Linked DNA regions of Homo sapiens. The protein of the gene in region 1 interacts with the protein of each later gene in a pairwise test. Each region holds a gene or a part of one and is shown on either strand. Other genes may lie near its edges. The genes, in order: FAM83C and CSNK1A1.

What was found.
Region 2: the proteins of FAM83C (region 1) and CSNK1A1 interact in binary tests that used the Homo sapiens proteins (3 or more experiments, as listed by UniProt).

The regions. Positions count from the first base shown.
Region 1 is NC_000020.11:35,289,610-35,293,999, forward strand, and holds the start of FAM83C (protein FAM83C), read right to left. Parts: upstream 2,817-4,390; 5' UTR 2,696-2,816; coding exon 2,183-2,695; intron 1,030-2,182; exon of another isoform or gene 794-1,029; intron 1-793. UniProt on the Homo sapiens protein: May play a role in MAPK signaling.
Region 2 is NC_000005.10:149,495,650-149,499,440, reverse strand, and holds part of CSNK1A1 (casein kinase I isoform alpha), read left to right. Parts: intron 1-2,580; coding exon 2,581-2,588; 3' UTR 2,589-3,791.

The DNA.
Region 1 (4,390 bases):
TACAGGCGTGAGCCACCACGCCCAGTCGCTAGTTTTTTTTTAATTCTAATTTTTTGTAGAGATGGGGTTCTCACAAGCTGGTCTTGAACCCCTGGCCTCAAGCGATCCTCCCACCTCAGCCTCCCAAAGCACTGGGATTACAGTCAAATCCCAGCCCAGATTTGACTGTCTTGAACCCCTAGCTGTTTGAAAGCATTTGTGTGCATCCTTCTGTGCACCGAGTGTTTATCCATCATCAGATTCTCAAAGATGACTGTGGATCAGCTGTGCTAGTCCAACACTCCCTCTGCACTGAGCCCCAGATGGGACAGCAGTGAGAAGGAGAACCCAGACCCCAATTCCCAGGCAAGTTCCTGGCACTCCCCCGACTAACTCCAGCCCAGCTCTGACCCAGGGACTGTCTGTCTGAGGCTCCCTTCTCCAGGGTCACAGCTACAAGCCACTTACTGGGGTCTTCGCTGCCCTTTCCCAGTCCTGCCTCAGTTTCCCTGTGAAGCCACAGAGGTCTGGTGTGACCCCTTACACTGCAGACTCCCTTACTTGCACCCATGCCAAATGGATCCAAGTTTTCTGCTCAGTTGAGGGCTGGGCTGGGGCTTGTGCCTCCATCCCATATAAAGGGCTGCCTCAAAGAGGCCCCTGAAACCTTCTTGGCACCTCCCAGCCCCCAGCTGGCCTTTCTTCCCATGGCATATATCTGCTATGAGAGTCTTCTCTCCCAGGCAGGGCCGAGAGGCAGGAGGTACAGAGCATAGCACTCCAGCTCTGGAGTCAGAAAGAACTGGGTTCAAACCTGGACTCTATCACTTCCTGGTGACACAGCTTTGGGTGAGTCCCTTCACCTCTGGAAGCCTCACCTTCCTCATCTGTTAAATGGAGATAATGATAGCCATGTCTCAGAGTTACAGGGAATTAAATGTGAAAATGCTCAAGACATAACAGAGCTCTATAAACATTGGGCTGCAGGGCAACGCAGCATTTCCCAAGGTCACTAGGAGTCATGACAGCCCAGTGCACGAACCTGGCTCCTGACCCAGGATAGAGGGGTCTAAATGGGGGCTGAGAAGGCGAGGCACTGGGGGATGCCCTAGTTCACAGCACAGGCCTGGCCAGGGTGGGGGAACAAGGACAGGCAGGAAGATCAAAGAGGCAGGGGTGAGGAGGACGACAGCAGCAGCCTCACTAATAACCCCATTCCTGATGCCAATCAGGCCTGGCCGTCCCCTGCCTGGGGCACAGGAAGGCTTGCCAGGGAGGCTCTGGAAGTACCGGTGGGATCCCAGCATCCTGGCTTCCCATCTCTGCAGCAGGAGCCTAACTCTCCCTCAAACCCTGCCAGGGATCATCTCGTCCATTCCCCTGGAGTCGGAGGCCAGGGCTTCAGAAGGGAAGCTGTGCTCGTGTGTGGCCAGAGCCTTTCTGGGTGCTGACCACCCCTACCTGCCCTCCCAATTCTCTTTCTCCTGAGCTCCCGCTCCCCATCACTGAGCCCAGCAGCCTCCTCTCCTCCTTCCTCCTTGGTTCCAAAGCCCAGCCCTCAAGGCCACGCCAAAGAGGCCCACACGCTGGCCCCTTCCCCTGCTTCAGGCCCAGCTGCAGATGTGGTGCAGGAGGGTAGGGGGCAACTAGGGACCTGAGCCAGCAAGGAGGGCCGGACTGGTCCCCAGGACCCAAGTCAGAGAGCCCCTGTCTCCCCAAGCCCTGAGCTCTATGTCACCATATGGACCTCCCTGGGCAAGTCCCAAGCCCCTCTCTGGCCTCAGTTTCTTCTTCTATAAGTGAAGGAGGTGACTCAGATGTTCCCCAAGGTTGGAGTTCTTAGTGTGGGGATCATAAAACTTTTTGAGAATCTGATTTAAGGCAGTGGAGCATCTTCCAAGGTAAAGATGCAGCGAGGACTCCTCCCTCCAACCTGCACCACTTCGTGTGCATTTCAGGGGATTGTGGAGTCCCTGACACCCATGCCCTGTTCTATGCTCATCCATACTATTCCTGGGTACCAAGCAGTTGCCAAGGTAAATATGGGATGTCCCCCTTCTAGGAGTTTGCAATCTAATAGTGCCAGAGGTGCTGGTCCTCATTCTGCCCCTAAGTCGCTGTGTGGCCTTGGGCTGGTCCCTTCCCTCTCTGGACCTCAGTTTCCTCCTCTGTGAGATGAGTGATGGAGAGATGAGGCCCTTACCGTGTGGGCCTGGCTGAAAAGGAAGCGCAGCAGGTCCTTGATGTTCTTGGCCTTGTCCCTCTGGAAGTGGACCACAGCCTGGGTGGGGCTGAAGCCTGTGGCCTGTGGCACCTCGGGCCAGCCCAGGTCCAGGTCTGGGGGGTCTATGTCAGAGGCCATGGGGAAGTAAGTCCCTGAGGTGACTTCAGAGAGCAGGCTGAGGCGGTCTGGCCCGGAGGCCTCCTGCCCCTGAGCCTCGCTGAGCTCAGGGCCCCCGCGCACATGGCTGGTCATGTAGTCCACATCCAGGGCGCTCAGGAAGGGCAGCTCCCGCTCCTCGGAGATGACCCGCAGGTAGGCAGCCTCACCCCGCTCCAGGAGGGCGTCGGCCGCCAGCCGAGCCGCCTCGCTGTGCCGCAGCACCAGCGGTGAGCTCTCCCGCCACCACGGCAGCTTCAGCTCTTCCACCCGGCCCCGCAGGGGTCCCGCCATGCCCTGGGCTCCCAGGACCCCAGGCCCCGGGCCTCCGAACATGCCTGCCACGCGGCTGCCTCACCCGCCGGCAGGGCCCATGGCCCGCACGCTGGGCTGGCTGCAGCAGGAAGAGGAGACCAGCAGAACCGCCTTCTGCCCGCCCGCTCGCTGTGTGTGTGGCAGGGCCCCCAAACTGTTGCCACCCTAAATCAGAGCCACGCTCCACCCTATTGCCCCTGGCCTCTGGAACCTGTCAGGTCAGCCCCACCTGTCTGCCTGTGTTGGGACTCGCCTGCCCAGGGAAGCGGCAGTGCCAGGCCCTCGGTGCACACTCCTGCCTCCCTCTCTTCCTCCCAGCAACGCCGCCCCATCCCCACCAGGCTCCCAGCAAGTCTCCAAATGCTGACTTCCCGGGACCCACAGAGGTTGAATTACAGCCAAGAGGGGCCCAGGCGACTCAGGAACACACACTCACACGCACACGCACACACACTGCAGGTGGGTGAGCGACTCAAGACACCCAGGAAAAGACATGAACACCCATGCAGATGGACACACTGACAACTGACCGATACACAGACATGGAGTGTGGGCTGACACAGACCGACCACACATTGTAATCACATCCACTTGCATAAACTCTTCACCCAAACGCCGATGTAGAGACCGGCCATGACCCCCACAACACATACCACAGTGGATAGCACGTGCCCTGGCTCAAGTCTGCAAGGCCCTGAGAGCTGAACGACTGTCACATGGAATATCCAAGGACATCAACGCTGGTCTGTCCCCCAGCCAGCCCTCTTTTTGCTCCCATAATCGTCCTGCCACTCTCCATCATCTTAACTGTGGTGCTCACAGCCCCCTGGCTCTCTCCCACCCCGGCTCGGAGCTGTCCTTCAAGAACCTAGAGCAGTGGCTCTCACCCTGACCCCAGGGGTGGTGAGAGGTGATGAAATGCAGATCCCCGGGCCCCACCCTCCTGGAAATTCTCATCCAGAAGGTGTCCGTAGGCTTCTGGAGCTTGTCTTTTTTCTTTTTCTTTTTGAGATAGGGTCTTGCTCTGTCACCCAGTCTGGAGGGCAGTGGCGCAATCACAGCTCACTACAGCTGTGCCTCAGTTTCTCTGGACTCGAGCGATCTTCCCACCTCAGCCTCCTGAGTAGCTGGGATTACAGGTGCATGTTACCATGCTCGGCTACTTTTAAAATTTTTTTAGAGATGGGATCTCACTATGTTGCCCAGGCTGATCTTGAACTCCTGGCCTCAAGCAATCCTCCTGTCTCAGCCTCCCAAAGTGCTGGGATTACAGGTGTGAGCCGCCACACCTGGCCATTTTTCTTTTTTAATTGAGACATGATCTTGCTCTGTCACCCAGGCTAGAGAGAGCAGTGATGTGATCATAGCTTACTGTAACCTCAAATTCCTGAGTTTTTAAACAAGTGCCCAGTGCACTGTGGGCAGTGGGCTAAGGCCCACCCCTGAGACATGCTGTTCCAGATGGCTGTGCTTGCAACACCCTTAACTCCAGGGATGTTCTTGGCCTGGTGGTGGCCAGACCCCAGCCTTCTTCCCCTCCTCCAGGGCTGAGTATGAAAATGGTTGGAAGGTTGTTTCAGAGAATGGGCGGACACACTGCAAGGTCAGGAGGCAAACAGGGCAGGTAGATTTCTGACCTCTGCCCCAACAAAGATTAAAGTCCTGGAGCATGTACCGTGTGTCCTTCGGAGGATGGTGAGCAGCTTTGCTCTGGGG
Region 2 (3,791 bases), on another chromosome or scaffold:
GGGATAGAATATCCTTGTTAGTTATATAAAAATAAACTTTTTTTTGCTTTTTGCAGATTTGAAATTTAATTAAGCTATTAACTTCTTAATCATCACATCCTCCAACTCTGTTTTAACTCCCCCCTCCCCCTCCCCTTTTTTTTTAAGGAATAAAGGGATTCATTCCTCATTTTAACTGATGTTACAGTGAAGATGGGTTCTTGAACTCTTGGAAGCCTGGATGAGCCACCTAATCTGCAAGATAAAAACCAAAGACCAATGCGTATTGGGGAAAAGAATGCTTAGTACTGCAAGACTGTTGAATACCTGTTGAATATTCCTATTGAGGTTTTTTCCTAAACATACTTCAGTAACATCTTAGGACAATTCACTGGAGAAATGTTGATCCCTGGCTGGAATGTCATACCATTGACCCATTTGAAGAGTTAAAGCTGGATTTGACTGCTCTATTCTACCAGGAATATTGTTAGGGTAGCCTTTTACCAGTTTCTAAACAATTGTAATCATTTATTGACTCAGCAATTCCTCAGATAACAGGTCAAAAGATGTACAGATACATTCTGAAGTTTTCTTGCTATTAAAGGCACAAGAGTTTCCTTGTATTTTGACTGACAATGTAGCATGTTTCCATTTTAGTTTGTTAGTGATGGTGGTTTTCCCTTTGAAAGCCATTTGGTATATTCACCATAACAATTAGTTTAATATGATTACATAAGAAAACTATGATAAAACCCAGCAATTTTAGTAGTTGTGAAAATACGTTTTTTAAATCATGTTTAAGAAGAATTGCAAGACTTGAAACCAAATCCTGATGGGGGAATTCTGTTTAATCCTGTTTAATCTGTTTAATTTCTGTTTAATCCTTAGTTTCTTAACCTGCATAGCTTATCCTGTATTGTACTTTTTTTCTTTTTTAAACTCCCAAACAAGAAGCTTGAAACTTTTCCTGTATTTTAAAATTGAAATTTGGTCACAGGGTATAGTCAGATTTTTATTAAGGTTTGGTTTGACAACCTTTAAAAGAAAGGTTTACCTCGCTAATACTTCTTAATAACATGCATCAAATGATATTCCCTATGGTGAAGTATATTCTCAAAGTTATGTTATCTTTCATTTTTGGCATTTGGTGCTTATGGACTTAGTACCCAGGCAACAAAGATCTATTATGCACCTACTCTCTTGTATGTTCGCTATTATTTCCCAAAAAAAAAAAGGGGCATATATGCATAAGAAATAAATATTAGAATTATTTTGTTTCTCCCACAAAGCCCATGGGAGATGGCCCAACAAATGTTTAAAAAGTAAAAGAAGCTGGGCACGGTGGCTCCCACCTGTAACCCCCACACTTTGGGAGGCCATGGCGGGTGGATCACGAGGTCAGGAGTTTGAGACCAGCCTGGCCAACACAGTGAAACTGTGTCTCTACTATAAATACAAAAATTAGCCAGGCATGGTGGCAGGCACCTATAGTCCCAGCTACTCAGGAGGCTGAGGCAGGAGAATCGCTTGAACCCAGGAGGCAGAGGTTGCGGTGAGCCAAGATCATGCCACTGCCCTCCAGCCTGGGTGACAGAGCGAGACTGTCTCCAAAAAAAAAGAAAAAAGAACTAAAAGAAAAGGAGCAGTTTATGATTGAAGAAAACATGACCTGGGCTGAAGAAGTGAGGATTGATTGGAGTGGGCTAGAATGAGCTATAGTTTCTAGCTCATTTGTAAGGAGGTAGACAAAGGAGCATTGGTGCCTCAGAGTGGGTGTCTGGTGAGAGGAAAAACGGTGCTTAAGAGATTTTCAGGCTATTGCTGTGGGACAGGCATATTTTCTCCCTTTGCCTTTAGCTGTAGATAAAGTGTGGTTATGACCTGAGGCTTCTTGTATTCAAACTTGGCCTAGGGCCTATGTAGAGGCCCTAGGGTCTACTTGTGGTGGAGGAGGGAAGTATTTGTAGAATGTGTAGGCTTGAGAAGTAAATAAAGCCAAAAAAGCATCACTTGCTTACATTTTTAAATGAGTCACAAAACAATCTTTCTAATGCGGCCGGTAAAGAAGTTTTAAAGGTCTAAGGTTTCTCTACAGAAATTACATGCTTCTCAGGTCTTTGTTTAGTAAAATAATACAGATAATTATGCTTTGAATGCATTTATTATTAAAGCTAACCGTTTTAATTTGTGTCAGAAATAATTTGTGCCTATGGTAGGATTAAAATTGTATTCTTTAGTTAAAGCAAAGCAATCTGTTTTTCATTGATTTGATAAATATGTGAATGCCTAATATGTTCTGCATATGTAAAAATGCAGAAACATGCTCATTTGAATTACTAATAATTATTTTAGTATGCTGAGAGGCTTTGAATTCACTGTACCACTCCTTCCTAGAGTCATTCAAAACAGAAAAAATTAGTTTTAAGTATAGATTCATGTTTTTCTGTTTTAAAAAGTTGAGCTAATACTTTTCACAAGAGACGAAATAACATGAGCCACTATAATTATTGGCTCAGTTCCACCCAATTTCCATATTTTGGGTGTAATTTAAAATTTTTGACTTGGAATTTTAACTTTTTTTTTGTTTTGATTTTTTACCAGGTTTCTAAGCATGAATTGAGGAACAGAAGAAGCAGAGCAGATGATCGGAGCAGCATTTGTTTCTCCCCAAATCTAGAAATTTTAGTTCATATGTACACTAGCCAGTGGTTGTGGACAACCATTTACTTGGTGTAAAGAACTTAATTTCAGTATAAACTGACTCTGGGCAGCATTGGTGATGCTGTATCCTGAGTTGTAGCCTCTGTAATTGTGAATATTAACTGAGATAGTGAAACATGGTGTCCGGTTTTCTATTGCATTTTTTCAAGTGGAAAAGTTAACTAAATGGTTGACACACAAAAATTGGTGGAGAAATTGTGCATATGCCAATTTTTTGTTAAAACCTTTTGTTTTGAACTATACTGCTTTGAGATCTCATTTCAGAAGAACGGCATGAACAGTCTTCAGCCACAGTTGTGATGGTTGTTAAATGCTCACAATTGTGCATTCTTAGGGTTTTTCCATCCCTGGGGTTTGCAAGTTGTTCACTTAAAACATTCTTAAAATGGTTGGCTTCTTGTCTGCAAGCCAGCTGATATGGTAGCAACCAAAGATTCCAGTGTTTGAGCATATGAAAGACTCTGCCTGCTTAATTGTGCTAGAAATAACAGCATCTAAAGTGAAGACTTAAGAAAAACTTAGTGACTACTAGATTATCCTTAGGACTCTGCATTAACTCTATAATGTTCTTGGTATTAAAAAAAAAGCATATTTGTCACAGAAATTTAGTTAACATCTTACAACTGAACATGTATGTATGTTGCTTAGATAAATGTAATCACTGTAAACATCTATATGATCTGGGATTTTGTTTTTATTTTGAAATGGGAGCTTTTTTGTTTACAAGTTCATTAAAAACTAAAAACTGTTTCTGTAAGGAAATGAGATTTTTTTTAAACAACAAAAAATGCCTTGCTGACTCACTATTAAATAAAAATCTCCCCAATTTTTTGATAGACTACTTCAAGCCATTTGTTACATGGTATTCCTTTGCAAGTCAATTTAGGTTTCGTGTTATAACTTTTCCTCTTTTTTTAAGAAAAATGAAAAAAGTAATTCTTTTGTCTGAAGGGGAAAGGCATTCTTTCATTTTTTTCTTTTTTTTTTTTTTTTTTTATGACTTGCAGGCACAATATCTAGTACTGCAACTGCCAGAACTTGGTATTGTAGCTGCTGCCCGCTGACTAGCAGCTGGACTGATTTTGAATAAA